3 separate regions of the Homo sapiens genome follow, and all the other regions are linked to region 2. Evidence: fine-mapped expression QTL. A gene starts in region 2. Each other region holds a variant in brackets. All regions are shown on one strand. Distances are from middle to middle. Region 1 overlaps MGLL (monoglyceride lipase). Region 2 holds the start of ABTB1 (ankyrin repeat and BTB domain containing 1). Region 3 overlaps MGLL (monoglyceride lipase).

What was found. PIP is the estimated chance that this variant, and not a neighbour inherited with it, causes the effect.
Region 1: its variant is the best candidate, but not a certain one, in a credible set for the expression of ABTB1 in skeletal muscle (GTEx, PIP 0.84).
Region 3: its variant is the best candidate, but not a certain one, in a credible set for the expression of ABTB1 in whole blood (TOPMed, PIP 0.88).

Annotation. Positions count from the first base shown.
Region 1 is chr3:127,757,478-127,762,477 of GRCh38, forward strand. All of the region lies in intron 3 of MGLL (monoglyceride lipase), which reads right to left. Among named protein-coding and RNA genes, the nearest start is that of MGLL, 63 kb to the right of the region's middle. The variant T/C (reference allele first, on the strand shown) is at 2,346.
Region 2 is chr3:127,668,359-127,676,052 of GRCh38, forward strand. ABTB1 (ankyrin repeat and BTB domain containing 1) reads left to right here and starts at 4,594. Exons shown (of 12, transcript NM_172027.3): 1 at 4,594-4,723; 2 at 6,033-6,095; 3 at 6,187-6,242; 4 at 7,612-7,694. The coding sequence starts at 4,668. PODXL2 (podocalyxin like 2) reads left to right here. Exons shown (of 8, transcript NM_015720.4): 5 at 83-239; 6 at 783-844; 7 at 3,076-3,255; 8 at 3,910-4,444. The coding sequence ends at 4,122. RefSeq lists silencers at 3,876-3,955, 3,966-4,565, 4,706-4,965.
Region 3 is chr3:127,707,872-127,712,871 of GRCh38, forward strand. MGLL (monoglyceride lipase) reads right to left here. Exons shown (of 8, transcript NM_007283.7): 6 at 2,705-2,794. Among named protein-coding and RNA genes, the nearest start is that of ABTB1, 37 kb to the left of the region's middle. The variant C/G (reference allele first, on the strand shown) is at 3,074.

The DNA of each region.
Region 1 (5,000 bases), 88 kb after region 2:
ACATATATACAACCAGTGAGATGGCTTTTGGCTTCAAGAAATTGATGACTTAGCTCTGGAACTCTCCGCTTTCAAAGAACACTGAGATTAGCTAGATGCCCAGTTGCCAACTCCAGCAGGAATCGTAACTCCAAGTGAAGTGACTACACCAGAGAAAGAAACTCTTCATTGAACTCCCTAAAAGAAAAAGCACCCAAAGAACCTTGGGGACAATGAAGAAAGCTGTGACAGTGTCACGAAGCTGGGGGACCTGCCTCCGAGAGAGTGTTTCTTGACCCCAACCTGGGTAGATCCGAATCCAAGCTCAGGGTCCTCCTGACCCAGATGTGTTCAGCCACGTGTCATCGACACCTTGTAAACAGATTGCTGATACAGGAGTGCCGGGAAGAAACGCACACTTGCTTACACTGGTGGGGCACCTAGCACACCTGTAGGTACTTGGCTGATGTTATTCCATCAAATCTGTACGGGAGCTGCCTGGGGGCTTCTGTTCCTGTTTTATAGAGGAGAAAACTGAGGATCTCTGGGCCCTGTGTGGCCAGCTGCACACGACCTCTGTCTCCTCTCCTACAGTGCTCTCCTCTCACCTCACCTCCTGTCTCCCGACTGTTCATGAGTCAGGCACCCTCCTGCCCCAGGACCTTTGCACTGGCCACCCCCTTTTCCCCTGGTCATCTGTGAGGCTCCTCCTTGCCTCCTTTGGGTCTTTGCTCAACTACCACTTTCTCAGTGGAGCCAGCAGCTTGAGCATGGCCCCCTGCCCCCACTGCCCCGCCCTCCTCCTCCAAGGTTTTATTTTGCTTTGTGGCACTTATCTCCAATGGACATACCCTAAAGTCATTTATTGCTGCTCATTGTCTGCCAAGGGCAGGGACTTGTGTCTGTTTTGTTCACAGCTGCATCTCCTGTGCCCAGCACCATGCCTGGAGTTGGTAACTGGGCATCAAGCTAATACATTATAGACTGAACGAATGAATAAATACACGAATGAGGCTTGGAGATGTGAAGGAGCTTGCAAAAAGTCAATAGCTAGAAGTTTTTCAAGCTAGACAGAAGCCCAGGTCAGCTTGGCCCTCTTAGAGCAGCCCCTGAGCCTTGTATAATTAAATGGTGTGTTCCGTTGTTAGTGCTGACAAAGTGCCAGTCTCCTTTCCTAACAATTCGGCTGTACCGAGCGAGGAGAATGGGGGAAGTCACCTGTAATTTTCTTTTCTGTCTTCCCCTTTAAAAGGGTCTTTAAAAATCAGATATGTGTTATAAAAAACAATGGGATAATGGGTCGATTTTTCATATCATGACAAGCAATTGCTAGGGAGAAAAATATCATTCTTGAAAATGTGCAAAAGTGCACTGGCTGTAAGTTGTAAACATGACCCTCACAGGAAAGGATATTCTGGGGGCTCCTGGCACCTATTTCTTTCTTTTTCTTTTTTTTTTCTTTTCTTTTCTTTTTTTTTTTTTTTGAGACAGAGTCTTGCTCTGTTGCCCAGGCTGGAGTGCAGTGGTGTGATCTAGGCTCACTGCAACCTCTGCCTCCCAGGTTCAAGTGATTCTCCTGCCTCAGCGTCCTGAGTAGCTAGCTGGGATTACAGGTACATGCCACCAAGCCTGGCTAATTTTTGTATTTAGTAGAGATGAGGTTTCGCCATGTTGGCCAGGCTGGTCTTGAACTCCTGACCTCAAGTGATCAACCTGCCTCGGTCTCCCAAAGTGCTGGGATTACAGGCGTGAGCCACTGCGCCCGGCCCTGGCAGCTATTTCTCACAGCGTCCATTATTATAAACCAGCTCTCCTATTCTGTGACCCCAGCAACTGAGACACAGAGTCAGGCGGCTCTCAACCCTTCTCTCTGCTATGCGTGACCCTGGCTAACATCTCCAACCTCTGCGGGACTGTCCTTACCCCTCCCTTGGTCCCCTACCACACCTGATGTGACCAAGGCTCTCAGCACCGTGCCTGGTACACAGTAGATGCTCACTGGAGGTGGGTGTGCCTCTCTTCTGAATCACGTGCTCAAGAGGGATGTCTGTGTTCACCTGCGGCCATTTAAAAATCTCAGCTGTGGGCATGTTCTCATGTCTCACTGCACCTTCCCCTGCTTAGAGGTCATTTTCCAAGGAAGGGAAGAGAGAATGTAATTCACAGAAGCAGTGCCACTTTACAGAGATGCTTTGAGCCCAGAGATCCCGATGACTTCAGAGACTCTTGGTTCTCGTGTGGACTGGGAGGAAGGAGTGGCCTGATGCAGAGCTCCTACCTGCTCAGATCAGCCCAGCTCCTTCTCCCTCACTCAACACAGGGTCCTTGGAATCGGTCCCTTTGGCCTTCAGATGATTCTCCTTTTT[T/C]GGTAAGAAAGCTTCCACTGAATAAAACCTTTAAGTGATTTTTCCAATCTGGTGGCGTCTGTACAATAACTGAGGAGAGAAATAATTATGATTATGGGGTCTGAATGATCCAGCACTTCTCCACGACTCTGAGGAGGAGGCAGCTGGCCCCTGCCTCTCACATTGACTGTCTTTGCGGGCAGGCCCTGCTTAGACGGCTTGGTTTTCTGCGTTGGAGAAAGGAAGCCAGTGGTGTAGCAGGGAGAGCGCTGGATGTGCACACAGCTTTCAAAGAAAAGCAAAGGAAAGATGACGGGAGGGAAGGGCAGAGCCACACAGGGGTGGAAGCATCCATTTATGGGACATTGAGTTTGTGTGGGGTCCTATGAGCTAACGTTTCCATAGGAAGCCTCAGGCCTAACATACAGATGGGAAATCTGAGGCTCAGAGAGGTCAAGTGACTGTCCTGGACACACAGGTATAAAGAGTAGGCCAGGCCACTCTGCCTCCACCCAGCAGGTTCACATAACAGAACTCTCTGGGCTAAGCTCCACTTGTCAACAGGGGACCAACCCCTCTGGGCTCACACCATGCCACACAGGGCACGTGGGTGCTGAGGAATGAAGGTGAAAGGACCTTGTTCTCCCCCTGCAGTCAGCCCCGATGCTGGCTCTGTCCCTCATCCAGGCTCAGGCGCCACCTCTGGGAGTCAGAGCATCTTCTAGCAGAGCCTTGGCAGGAGGCGAGGTGAGGAGCTGGCACGGCACCCCTGACAGACTGCGCGTCGCAAGCTATTCCTGGAGCCGCTGCGGCACTTCTGTCAGATGATGCAGAAACCCCAGGGCCACTCGCCTGGGGGCTGTGCCCCACGCCAAGCTGCTCAGAGGCACAGCACTGATTGGGGGGCGCTGGTCCAATGGAACCTGCGGCTCTGCACCCCAAAGCATTTTCCCAAAAGTTAAAACTGTAGCAAGGTGCAAGTGTGTAAGAATTTCAGTCCGACTTTGCCCCCTAATGACTGTGAGCTTGAATAAATCAGGCAGCATCTCTGAGCTTGTTTCCTCCATAGGGACGTTGCCTGCCTTACTCTGCTGCCGTAGGATTAAATGGGGTGATCCGTGGAAAAAATTATTAGCACAGAAGTCATGGATTTTTCCAGCTGGGCAAGCGTTATTTGATTTTCTTTAAACAGGGCTCATCCTCCAGGCCAAATTCATACCCACACATACAGGATTCACAAGTGTGAACTTGAGCGTATCCAAAGAAACCATCATTTCTGTGAAATGCCTTGTAATTCTGCAAGCCTTCACTGAGCAGCTGCTATGAGCAAGGTGCCACACAGATGCGGAGAGCAGAGGCCCCAGTTGCTGTGTTCAGATAACGTACAATTCCCTGTGGCCATCCGGACCCTTCGCACTATCAAGGGGCCCACCGCCTGGGAGGGATTTCTGGGGTGCTGATGACCAGACTGCGTCACTTTCCAGGGCCCACTGGGCAAACTGGCTTCTCCCCTGCTGCTGTGTCTTGTTAGAGCCACCGTGTTGTGTTGGGGGTGCTGGCTTAGTTTAGGGTGGGGATGAGAAGCTTTGAGGGACCAGGGTGGAGGCCTCCCCAGGGCTCCTCCTTCTCCAGCAAGCAGTACTAACCTCCACAGCCAGGGTGGAAGCCACAGAACACTCAGAGACAGCAGTCAAAGAGGCCACTTCTGCACTGCCTGGACCAGAGACTGCAAACTGCCCTTCAAGCTGCATTTCAAGTGCCTTCTGTGTGTGTGTCCACGTGTTCCCCTAAGCGACTGGGCTACACCAGTCCACCACAAAGGTACTGTGGGTTTCCTCTTTTGGCTGGTGAGGACACGGAGGCACAGAGAGGGCTGGCGCACAGCCGGCCGTGGGCAGAGCTGGACTGCCACGCAGGCTGCCTCCCTCCTGGCACGTTCGGCTCCTCGCTTCATCGGCCGGGCCCTTGGGACCCCAGCTCTTCAGGGAGGGACTCCAGGCAGAGCTTCATTCTCAAATGCCCAGACAAGCACTAAATATGCGTAGTGCACCCAGCGCACTTGCCGGGGAGTTGTGACTGCATCTGAGGATCCCATGCAAGGTTTGGGTCCTCTGTTTGCTTTTTAATTTCTCCCTTTACCTCTAACAGGGGAGAAACCAAGACACCGAGAACACAGCTTAATAGATCTGTGATTTGGAATTCTGATCCTGGCTCTACCACTCCTGGCTTGTTGTCTCTCCTGTAAAATGAAAATGACGATGGCTTTACCTGCCTTGGAAAATGAAATGAAATGAAATAGAGAATATGAAGCCCTTCAGAAAGGGCAGCCTGACAGTGCAGTCGTGGTTTATTGCTTCCACGTTAGTGACACATGAAGCACCTTGTCTGCCGGCATGCGGTTCTCTTTTCATTTTGAGCAGGACCCCACTGGGCTCTGCTCCTGAGCTCTCCGCGTCCTCCCCGCCTGCCCTGACGGTTGGCAGCATTACAGCCGTTTATTTTTAGTTCTTGGTGGGCCAGCCATTTCCTGGTCACATGCTGTTTGAGCTCCCACTTCAGAAAGGCTCAGCTCACAAGACAGACTCTGCCCATTCCCACCCCCAGCCTTTCTTAAGGGCTGTGTCAAAGCGAAGCCAGCCCTGACCCTACCTATTTTAAAGTTCCTTTGAGGAGTCC
Region 2 (7,694 bases):
TACGGGGCTGGGCCTAGAGGCAGAGGGCTCAGTAGAGCCCCTTTCCTTCACTGAACACGGGGGGCTCTTTCTGCCCTTGTAGGAGGTGTTCCGGCAGCACCGGGGGCCACAGCTCCTGGCCCTGGTGGAAGAGGTGCTGCCCCGCCATGGCAGTGGCCACCATGGGGCCTGGCACATCTCTCTGAGCAAGCCCAGCGAGAAGGAGCAGCACCTTCTCATGACACTGGTGGGCGAGCAGGGTGAGCGAGGGCAGGTGATGGGAGGGCCCAGGAGGGCAGTGGGAGGCGGGCGGCCCCTGAGGGTCACGGGAAAAAAGTGCACGCATAAGGGCTTTGAAACTTGGAACTCCAGGACAGTAGTTTGAGCTACTTAGCTTAGTGGTCAAGGTGTACCCACCAGCTTGGGTTCTGGGGACAAGGAGGAGGGTGTGAGAATTAAGGATGGGGAACAGGAGGCAGGGGAACAGGTGTGGTCCAGCACAGGTGGGAGATGAATGGACACTGTACCTGGTGTGGCAGGGGAGAAGGGGTGTGTTCAGAAGGCAGTGTGTGGGCTTCGCAAGTGGCTGGCTGGTGTTATACAAATCGATGTTCTAACAGATCGATGCAGTGGAAAGCATGTCTAAGAGAGGGGGAGGCATGTGCCTTGAGGATCTGTGTGCAATTTGAGCCAGGAAGGGAGACAGAGGCTCAGGCCAGCTGTTGGAGAGCGGGGCCAGAGCCCTTGGAGGGGCACGCACCTCAGCCATGGTCACACTGATAGTGGTGTTTCTTACCCCCCAGGGGTGGTGCCCACTCAAGATGTCCTTTCCATGCTGGGTGACATCCGCAGGAGCCTGGAGGAGGTAAGAGTGCAGGGACCTGGACCTGTTAGCTTCTAATATGCTCCCTCCTGTCTCTGTTCCTCAAAGTCCCAGGAGTCTGCCCACATCGTGAGGTTCAAAGGAGTATAAGACAGAGCGTGCTCTGGGCAGGTTCCTTGCTTCAGGCCTCCCTTAGACATGGTTTTGTGGGAAAGACGGTGCATGTGCATGCTACCAACCAAAGGTCCAATGCAGGCAATGGCCAGGGGCAGAAAGGGGCCATGGGGGTGTGGGGGCTGTGCTAAGAGGCTGACAGTCAGGAGAGGGCCCAGAGAGGAAGGGTCTGGGGAGCAGTGAGGGTTAACTGGGAGTTTTCTGGGTAGACAGTGGCAGAGACACCATGCTGCCTGGTGGGAGGGGCGAGCATGATGGGTTCCAGAAACCAAAAGAGCAAGCCTGGGAGACCTGGACATGTGACTTGGCGTGGACGTGTGAATCTACTGGTGCTTGCACGGCCAGGCCCTGCGCTCCTGCTGCGGTGAGATGCGGCGCCTGGGGGCCAGGAGGCAGCCCTGCCATCTTAGGAGGTGCCCCCACCCAGTGCAGTCTGCTGGCTGCCTGGCCCATCCCGATCAACCTCTCCTACCCAGCTGCCGCACAAGCTTGGATGGGATGGCAGGGTCCCCCAGTCCTGCTCCTCACACCACCTTGCCTATGGGGTCCTTCTGTTCCTCATCTCACTTCTTGAGGACAGCCACCATCTCCACCAAAACTGCCTTTGCTCACTGTAGAGTCCAGTGCCCTGTCATCAGCCCTCTCCACTCCCGAAGGTGCTGCCATTTTTGGCAGGAGAGATGAGTGGTATAATGCTGGCCGCCTCTTCATCCTTGCATGCCAGGGGAGCAGAGGCCCTGGTGGTGGTGCTTTTCTGGTGAGCATGTCGAATGCCCACTGAGCACCACACTGTGCAAGGCTCTCTCCCTCAGTCCTCGCCACCACCCCATGGGGTTGTGAGGGTTAAGTGAGGCACCTGTTGAGTACCAATGGTGTCCCCATGGAAGATGAGAGCTGAAGCGGGAGAGGTTAGGTGACCTGTCTGAGATGGCACCAGCAGTAAGCGGTAGAGCCAGGCTTTGCAGGAAGCCTGATTCCGGAGCCCGGGCCTTTCACCACACTGCTCTACTGCCTGGAGGGCCACTGAGGCCCTTCCCAGTTCTGGAATCGTGGGTCCATGAACAGTGGGGCTGCTGGTGGAAGTGTGGGCTAACCTTGACCTTTTATACAGTCCTCCCCCTGCTTTTCGCTGCCCCTGAGTATTCTGGCGTTACTGGTCACTTAATTCACACTGACTTGGCCAAAAGTCATGCTGGGTCTTTGGAAATATACTCAGGTGAATCTAGCAAGAAAAACTGACCCTTGATAACAAAAAATTGAGAAAAGTACTGGAGATACACGGGTGGTTCACAGAAACCGGGGAAGAGCTGCAACCTGAACTCAGAAAGGGGGCCTGGTGCAACCTAGGCCTCAGCACTGGGAACTGCCCTGATCCCTCACCTGAGGAGCCCCTGGTGGTGCTCGCCCTCCTGCTTCTCTCTGCTAAGATGCTGATCTGTGGAGATAGCACCTGCCTGGCCCCTGGCGCCGATCTCCTTGGCCAGAGAAGGCAGGACTGACCATGACAACCTGCAGCGTGGAGGGATGCAGGCAGCTACATGCCAGCAGTGAACACGCCATGGGAAGGGAGGAAGCTGGGCAGCCGGGGTGGCCCCCCATGTGGCCTGCATGCCCTCAGTATCCCTCCCTGCACCGGCCCTGGCATCAGGAAGCTGACTGGTCCACCCCTCCCCACCGAGGTGGAAGCGGTTGTATGGTGGAGGATGTGTGGGGGGCTCACATCTCCTGTCTCTCTAACTAGTTAGGATAGGTGTGGGCACTCTCTCTAGTTGGATGGTGTCCAGCAGCATGGGTCCACTCTCACTGGAGGCCTAGGGCCACAGTGAGCTCAGACTCAGCGGCTGGGGCAGAAGCTATGGTGGGATGTGAAGGAGGCTGGGAACATGGGCATGGGGTGGAGAGGCCTCCAGGTGTACTGAGGCAAACGGGATGGGCATGGGGTAGAGGCAAGCCCAGGCGCCAGGGAACTTCAGGAGCCGGGAGTGCCAGCACCTTCTAAGCCTGCTCCCCCATCCCCACCCGAGCCCAATGCAACCACCCCAGAGGAGCCATGGCACCCCAGGACCTCAGCTGAGGAAACTGGCCCCTCCCACCCCTAGATTGGCATCCAGAACTATTCCACAACCAGCAGCTGCCAGGCGCGGGCCAGCCAGGTGCGCAGCGACTACGGCACGCTCTTCGTGGTGCTGGTGGTCATTGGGGCCATCTGCATCATCATCATTGCGCTTGGCCTGCTCTACAACTGCTGGCAGCGCCGGCTGCCCAAGCTCAAGCACGTGGTGAGTGTGGGGACAGGTGGGGCTGGGGGCCAGTTGAGAGGAGAGTGCCCATCGATAGGTGTCCTCATCTGCAAGGGGAGGCAGTGACTCTCCTGGGCGCACAGGGTCCCGTGGGTGAAGCAGCTGGTCAGCCTAGCACTGCTGACTGCTCTGCAGGGCACCAGCCCCAGGACAGGTGCCAGAGGTGCAGGGAGTGAGGGGGCTGCTAGCCCCACCAGGGGGCCCCTCCCTGGCACCACCAGCCCCTTTCCGGCGCAGGCACTGCAGGGCCTGAGCACCTGAATACCTCACCAGAGGCAGGCCCTGCGTTGGTGGTGCCCAAGGATCAAGGAGAGGCTCCAGCAGCCTAGAGGCCTCCCCAGGAGGAAGCGAGCAGAGCCCTAGCGATGCTCCCTGCCCACCTCGCAAGTGGAGTCTTCTTAGGGGGCTGTTGGGGGATCGATGACGTCAGGGAGGCCACGGGGCTTTGTAGTGCCAACGACTAGTAGGTTTATTTTGAGAAAGGAGTTGAGCTGCAGCAACAGAAAAGAAGGATCTGGCACCTGTGGAGGGTGCCGCGGGAACCCCCTGGGTGGGGTTGCACAGACGGCCGCGGGCCTGGCGCTGTCCGGGGGCTGGCTCGCTCGCCCATGGCCTCTCCCCACCCCGCCTCAGTCGCACGGCGAGGAGCTGCGCTTCGTGGAGAACGGCTGCCACGACAACCCCACGCTGGACGTGGCCAGCGACAGCCAGTCGGAGATGCAGGAGAAGCACCCCAGCCTGAACGGCGGCGGGGCCCTCAACGGCCCGGGGAGCTGGGGGGCGCTCATGGGGGGCAAGCGGGACCCCGAGGACTCGGACGTGTTCGAGGAGGACACGCACCTGTGAGCGCAGCCGAGGCGCAGGCCGAGTGGGCCGCCAGGACCAAGCGAGGTGGACCCCGAAACGGACGGCCCGGAGCCCGCACCAGCCCCGCGCCTACCCGGGCCGCCCCCGCGGCCTGGCCCTCGGCGCGGGCTCCTTCCCGCTTCCCCCGACTTCACACGGCGGCTTCGGACCAACTCCCTCACTCCCGCCCGAGGGGCAGGCCTCAAAGCCCGCCTTGGCCCCGCTTTCCCGCCCCTGAACCCCGGCCCCGCGGGCGGCGGGCGGCGCTTCCTGCGCCCCGGGACTCAATTAAACCCGCCCGGAGACCACGCCGGGCCCAGCGCGTCTGCCTTCTTGACTCATTCTTATTTCCGGGGTTGGGGCGGGGCGGGGCGGGCGGGGCACCCCGGGGCAGGGGCGGGGCCGCGGGGCGGGGAGGCCGGGGCGGGCGGGTCCTCCGGACGCCGCTGCAGAGCGGGGCGGGGCGGGGCTGAGCGTGTTTACATCCGCCGGGTGCGCGGCTTCGCCGCCCGAGGTCGTTCGGCTCGGGTACCATCCTCCGCGCCATGGACACCAGCGACCTGTTCGCCAGCTGCAGGAAGGGGGATGTGGGCCGAGTGCGGTGAGGACCTCGCAGTCCCGGGGAGGGTGCGGGAGGTGGCCGCCCTCGGAACGCCTCGGGCCCTGGGACGGGCGGCTGGGCGGCCGCGGAGAGGCGGGCGCCTCTGCCGGGTCACAGCCCTCGGAGCGCCCCCGCGGGGCAGACCACCCGGACCCCCGCCGCAGCCCCCCAGCGGAAGCGCGCTGGGGCGGGGACACTGATGGCCATTGACCCCCGGAGGGCTTCCTGTAAGAAGGGACTGCTCAGCGGAGGCCCGAAGGCGCAGAAGTGGGCGGAGAGAAGGCGGGCCACTGTTCGCCCTGGTAGGGCCCGGACGTCAGACCCCCCGGGCGCAGGGCGCGGGTATAGGCCTGGGACTCCAGACGTGGCCCCTTTCTCTCGTGCTCTCTGGACCTGGCGCGGGGAACACCTAGAGCCCATAATCGGCCTCCGGTCCCTGAGGATTCGGAAACTCCTGACGCAGCTAAAGTGAATCTGGCGCTGAGATGCCCCCTCCATGGGCCGGACGCGGAGGGAAGGGGTGCCCAGTTGGGTTCTGGGGCCCTTCCCCTCCTTGGGCTTCCACTATCCCGTTTGACCTCCTTTTTTCTTGGCCCTTCCTCCCCCTTGACCTGGTGCTGACTGACTGCTTCCACCTCCCCTGGGCTGGCGCCGGGCTGCTGTACTCCCGTAGCCTCCCTGGGCCGCTCCCTGACATCCCGTGCCACTCAAGAGTTAGTGCATAGTGTCAACGCTGAGTGGGTTCACAGCACTTCCAGGTGCAGCCTGGAGGCCTCCTTTGGGCTGCCCCCGCCTCAGTGGGGCTGCATTAGCATTGGCGACTCCCCTCGCTCACCTTCCGCATCCCATCAGTTGCTGTATCCCGCGACTCCTGCCTCCTAGAATTGTGTGCCCTCCACACCATCAGGAGGCCTGCAGCAGCTTTTTCCCGGGCTCCCTGCTTCTAACAGGGCCAGCTTCTTCCTGCAGTAGAGAGCTCTGGTGGGAGTGAAGGCTCCATCACCTCCTCTCCCAAACGCTGAAAGGCCAAAGGTCCAGCCTCGGCACTGGCTCTGGCTTCTGTCCCTGTAGCCCATCGTCCCCCAGCACTGATAGCACACAGTGTCTGCCTGTTCGACCCCACCTCCACATCCTTGCCTGCACTTTGCCTTGAGTGCCTCTCCTGCTCTGGTCTGCCTGTCACCTGCCCTCACCTGGGGGAGGCTTCCCCATACCAAAAGGGATGTTTTCTCTCCGTTCCTTTCCACGGGCCTTCTTTCTCAGACCATGAACCCGTCCTGACCCAGGCTCTGACCTCCTTCCTGCCCAGGTACCTGCTGGAGCAGCGAGACGTGGAGGTGAATGTGCGGGACAAGTGGGACAGCACCCCCTTGTGAGTGCTGGAGAGAGGGGTGGGGAGGGTGGGGGTTGGTGCACCCCTTCAGCACTGAGGACTGCCTCCTGTACTTCCTTCCTCCCTTCAGGTACTATGCCTGCTTGTGTGGGCACGAGGAGCTGGTACTCTACCTTCTGGCCAATGGTGAGAGCAGGGAGCCCGGCTCACGGGTGTGCGTGGGTGCATGCATGTGTGCGTGTGGGTGCATGCATGCGTGCGTGCATTCAAAGGCCTTGATACACATTTGCAAAGCACCACGATTCCTCTCTTACCACCCAGTCGAATCAGCAAGTACTATTATTGCTACTTTAAAACCTTTTCTCTGTCCACCTTGCCCATCTCTACTTCTACGACCTGGGCCCAGTCATCAGCATTTCTCCCCGGACACGGTGCCTGCCTCTCTCTTGCCATTGCAGCCAAGTTGATCTTTTCACAATGAATCTGATCGGCTAAAAATCCTCCAGCAAGTTCCCATTGCCTCTAGGATACAGTGAGCCTGCCTGGCCATGCCCAAGGCTCCACAGGGTCTGCCCTCCCACTGGCCTCATTCCTTCGGCTCTCCCTGCTTGCTTGCTGCTTGCTTGCTGCTACACTGGCCTCGCTGGGGCTCCACTGTGCTATGCATGCCCCTGTTCCTGCCCCAGGGCCTTTGCACCTGCAGTTCCTCCTGCATGGACTGCCGTTCTGCAAACGTTCACATGGCCCACTCCCCCTTCATTCAGGTCTCTGCATGCTGCCACCATTACAGAGTGACCTTTCATGACTTCCCTTCATTCAGTGCCATTCTTCTTCCTATTTTGGTTTTTTCTTTTTTTTTTTTTTTTTTTTGGAGACAGAGTCTTGCTCTGTCACCCAGGCTGGAGTGTAGTAGTGTGATCTCGGTTCACTGCAGCCTTAACCTCCCAGGCTCAAGTGATCCTCCTGCCTCAGCCCCTTCAAATCTTCAAATAGCTGAGACTACAGGCGTGCACCACCACGCCCGGCAAGTTTTTGTATTTTTTTTGCAGAGATGGTGTCTCACTATGTTGCCCAGGTTGGTCTCAAACTCCTGAGCCCAAGTGATCCACCTACCTTGGTCTCGCAAAGTGCCTGGATTATAGGTGTGAGCTGCCACGCCCAGGCTTGTTTTTCTTAATAGTCCCTGCCATCGTTAGGTAGTGGGTTGATTGTCCTGCCTCACTAGAGTATAAGTTCAGCAGGACAGGGACCTGTGTCTCGTTCACTGCTGTGCTCCAGTGTGTGGGACAAGCCCAGCCACCAAGTCAGCTCTCCGTTCTGTGTTGTCTGTCTTCCGTGTGAGTGAGTATGTGCCTGTGTGAGTGCACACAGACGTGCCCATTCGCCTAGCCCTTGACTGGGAGGGTGTTGGGGTCAGAGTGGGCCCAGGGTAATTTGGGAAGGCATCGCCAGAGATTCGGAGCCCCATGTGTGGGAAGGTGGGGAGGAGGGACAGGGAGATTAGAATTTCCCCCAGGCCCCTTCCCTGCTAACTGGTGAGCCCTGCCTCCCCCAGGAGCCCGCTGCGAGGCCAACACCTTCGATGGTGAGCGCTGCCTCTATGGGGCACTGAGTGACCCCATCCGCCGGGCTCTACGC
Region 3 (5,000 bases), 38 kb after region 2:
TGGGTTGTGAGAATGCTTGTCACAGCAAACACCAAACATTCTGCTTCTGACATTCTGGCAACAGAGCTAACCCGCTTCCCTTCAGACAGAATTCCAGATCTTCCCTGGGGCCTGTGCACTCTTGAGTCCCAGGCCCCTGCACCCTCGATTCCCGGCCAGTGGCCCATCCCCCATAGTCCTGCTCACTCAGCTTCTTAGGCAAACATTTCTTTTTGGTTTGAGGCTTTTATAGCTGCAGGGTTCCATGGGAAATGTCTTAGCTAAAGATGTGCCTCAAGACACCCCGATGTTAGATGCCTTTCCCAACACATTTTCCCCTCAGCGTTGCTATTTTTAAAGCTCAGCAGAACGTTCAGAGGGAGACGCAGAGCTGCGGCAGGCGAGGGAGGGAAAGGCGTGCTCTTGATTTTTCCAACTGCAGTCCAGCCTTGGGGCTGACCGGCCACCTCCCTTCCTCATGTCTTCTCAGCAGGGACATTTATTAGTGTTTCTAAATAACTGATGACCTGGGCAGCCAGAAACCCGAGGCAGGAGGGCTCGGATGGGGGCTGTGGGTGGGGCAGGAACAGAGGAGGGGAGCCCCACCAGGTGCTTCCATCCTGAGTAAGACCGAAGAATTTCTCATTATTGCAAAAAGGAGAGAAAAGATCTGAAATTGGATGCTTTTAAATAGAGAGGGTTTGGAATCTCTTTTTAGTACCTGTTTTTTTCTTCCTCTTTGCCCGTGTATTTTCAGGTGTTCAGATAAACAACGTGGATTTGCACCTGGGTGCTTTGTCTTAAAGGGAGGCCCCTCCCTCCCTGACCCATCTTTCTCAAACCTACTGTTGTCCTGGCACTGCCGCTACAAAGATCACTGGTTTTACCAGACACCACACCTTCAAGCTAGAGCCATTATGAGGGATGCAGGCAGGTGCAGGAGCCCCTGCCCCACACTGAGTTTCCCTGTCAAAGTGGGTCCCGTACAGAGAGCAATGGCCATGGCCATGGGCTGCGTGGACCAGCAATCAATTGTAAAACAGGAAACAGAGCTTAATGACCATAATTACTAGCTAGAGGGAGGCACCAAAGCATGGACTTTTGAATAAAATGGGCTAAAATCCCATCTCTGCCCCTGACTAGTTGTGCAATCTTGAACAGGTTATTTAACCTCTCCAAGCCTCAGTTTCTTCATCTGTGAAATGGGGTTAATGTCGATCTCATTCATGTCAGGATTAAATCAAACAGTGTATATTTGGCTTTGGTCTTTCTGGGTCCTAAAGTTGTGCTCTTTCACTGTATGAATCTGCTTTTTGGAATTAAAGTTTTTTTCCTTTATTCAGATATTCTTTCAGAAAGACCAGGGGCCACACACTGGTCCCTAATGGGTCCAACCTGGCCCCAAGATGTAGGTTTGGGAGGCACTGTGGGCTTTAAAAACCAAATTATATTAGAATTTTAAATTAATGTGGATGGGTTGGATGGATCAGATGCCCTCTGGCTCCACACAGGCCTCATGGCTTGCTAGAATCTCTCACCAGTCTGATTTTTAAGCAGCTGGCCCTCAGAGGCCTAGGAGTTTTCAACCCCTGATCTAGAAAGTCTCTTTCCTACACACCACGGGCTATTCCTCTTGAGTTGCCCACTCTCTAAGTGACTCAGAGGGCCAGAAGGCCACAGTTTATAATGAAGCTAGAGTCCAACAGCCCAAGGAAGTCTGGGAACATCCCCAGAATGCTAGAGCACTGCACTCCACTTCCCAGGGCCCTTTAGGGAGCCAGTGATTCAGTGATTTAGGGAGCCAGTGATTCAATGATTTCAAACTCCTAAAGCAAGAGGGCAACTGAGGCAGAAGAGTGGCAAACTTATTTGCTTAATCATGAAGATAATGCTGGTGTCTTCTGGATGCTTCCTACCCATTAACTGCAAGCCCACTCCCATACCCAGACAGAGCACAGCTGGAGACCACACCTACCCACGTTCCCAGGCTAGCCTCACCACTGGCTGACCCCAAGCAAGTCATCCCACGTTATGGGGCTCAGTTTGCTCATCTGCAATATGGGTCTGTCCTTCCTTTGCTACCACTATTCTGAGTTACCCCCAGGGATCCCCTTCCTCTACTCTCAGTGGGTGGGGATGATACTACCCCCCTTTCCTGGACAAATAATCCAGGCCTGGATAATCAGTCAGTAAGAATCAGCCCTGAGACTTTTGCTGGAAAGAGGTGCTGTTTTTCCACTGGGGTTGCTCAGGTAAACCTGCTGGTGGCCCTCTTGGCCTTCACTGGGGGAAAGCCTGTCTGGGAATGAAGCCAAACCAGGGGAGATGAAAGCTGGGAAGAGACCGATGGAGAATAAGACTTTCAACGCCCTGGATCCAGCCATGTCTGAAGCCTTCAGTTCCATTCACCACAAAATCCCTGCTTTTGCTTAAATCACTTTGATGTAGGTTTCTGTCTCTTGCAACCAAGAGACTTGACTGGCACACACTCAACTTCCACTGTTGGCTCCTTTCATGTTTAGAACACAGCTCAGGCATCATAGCCAACCCACCCTTTTCACCCAAACCTGAAGCCAACCATGTCTAATGCACCACTGTGTCCTTGTCACTTTGCACAGGGCCTCGGTGAAAGGGCAGCAGAGAATGCCAAGGCTGGAGCCAAAACTCTGATTCCCCATGGGGGCAGCCACCCAAGCTACCCCTGGGGTTTCGGAAAGCCTCTCACCTCTGTCTTATTCCGAGAGAGCACGCTGGAGTCGATGGGCCCGAGGGACAAGTTTGGCAGCACAAGGTTGAGCACTTTCGCAGCAAGGACCTAGCCGGGGAGGGAAAACAAGGGCTGTGAGCACAAGTGGCATCCACACCCGGCTCTTCCGCAGTGACAGTTTACAGTACATTAAGGAGAGTGATGCCCAAACTGAACATCAGCCAGGTTCGTCTCCCAAGCCTGCGTCCTTAAGCCTGCATGCCCAAGGACTCTCCCTTCTGACTCAGCCTCTATTCAGCCTGGCTCTGCTCCACCTTGGGGGAGCTGGCCAGGCAGCCGCTGCGCCCAAGGTGGGAAGTCACGTCTGAATTTTGCCCGCTCTATACC[C/G]TCCCCATGATCGCTCATGGGTTGTAATTTTGCATCACTGGCAAGAGTTGCCTGGGATGAGCTCTGGCCATTTCTCTGGGGTACTGAAAATACACGGCAGGTGCAGAATCACACAGATCAACTGAGCACGAAGCAGGGCAGTGCGGAAGGGCCCACAGGAGCCACACAGAGAAAGTGTGCGTCCATTTCTCTCGGGTGGAAGTAGAAATAGCACCAGCTCGATGAGGAGGCTGTGTGGCAGAGGGAAGGATTGCTGGGTTTGATTCCTAGCTCTGCTGCCTCGTGAACATGGGCTGGGATTTCCACATCGCTGAGCCTCCGTTTCCTCAGCTGCCAGTGGGACCTTGACCCTCCCCCAGAGGACCACGGGGAAGGTGAATAACACCCTGTGTGCAAAAGCCCAGGGAACACAGCAGGAGCTTAACACATGCTCATTGAACTTGAGCCTGATTGAGGCCCAAACCTTCCCACCCCCTCCCCCATCTCTCCTTCTGGATCTCTTGTTTTCCCAGGAAAACAGAGAACCCGGATCTCACACTTCTGCCTTCAGAGAGGGGCTGTTTTCATTTCTGCAATGTGCACAGACATTTGGGGATGAAAGATGCTATTTCAAAAGTGAGCTGTGAAATGCTGAAATTAGAATTGGACGGAAGGTGGCAAGCAGTGAATTCTCAGTGTACATCAAGGGCACAGGGCACGTAGCTCAGTACCCTTGGCAGAGGGCAAGGGCACTCACAGGCACCGAGGAACCACCTTCTGGTGCATTGGGCACAGTTTCCCTATCTTTTTTTTTTTTTTTTTGAGAGTCTTGCTCTGTCACCCAGGCTGGAGTGCAGTGGCGCAATCTCGGCTCACTGCAACCTCTGCCTCCTGGGTTCAAGTGATTCTCCTGCCTCAGCCTCCTGAGTAGCTGGGATTACAGGCGCGTGCCACCACGCCTGCCTAATTTTTGTATTTTTAGTAGAGACGGGGTTTCACCATGTTGGTTAGGCTGGTCTCAAACTCCTGACCTTGTGATCCGCCTGCCTCGGCCTCCCAAGGTGCTGGGATTATAGGCGTAAGCCACGGCGCCCGGCCAGTCTCCCTGTCTTTGCAAAAACCCTGGGAGATGAGGCTTCATCCTCACTGAACAGATGAGAAAATGGAGGCTCGGTACCATGAGGTCCATGGGAGGGGCCCCGGGCTGGGGGGCCGCTTTATCTTCTTATGCCACACAGCCTGGATTACTACGTCTCTGTCTCTGCCGCTGTCTGTGTCTCTCTCCACAAATGTAACCCAGAGCTCTAACCTTCCCGTGGGTCTTGGCACCAGCGGCCACTGATGTTCTTTTGGGGGACAAGATTGCTGTGCTTGCCCACCCTCCCTGTAGGCCAGGGCTAAACCTTCCTGTGTCCTAGGCCCGCACAAGTGTGGCGTGACTGCCCACCACGATTGTTTCTCAACCATCCAGTATCAGGCAGACAGCAAAAAACGGGCTTTTCTCCTAAAGGGCTTTGTTCCATGTGCATGAACCTATTCGGAGTTCCATGTGGTCAACACTCCTTTTCTCAAATGGTAGAAATCAGTAATTCCTTCTTAGTGCAAAGGTGGCAGCCCCCTGCCTCTGAGGATACCGAAGCTTACTGCCCTCCAGCCTTGGCATCCAGGCAAGCAGATCTCATTCTGCAGCCGCCACTGTGCCAGGTGCTTTGCTGAGCCCTGGGCTCCGACTTTGACTGTCTAGTATAGAAGCATGCGGCAGCCTGACTTTGAGCACTGTGCAGGGGCATGGTGTGTCTGCATAATCGGAAGCCTCGAAGGGTGGCCGTGATGGGTCAGGAATGTTCAAGAGTCCAGCTAGTATCATGGGCCAGCTCCAAGAACGAGCCTGGGAAAGGAAAACTTGGAATTCTGGGAACTCTGCACAAGGACTGGGGTATTTTCAAAC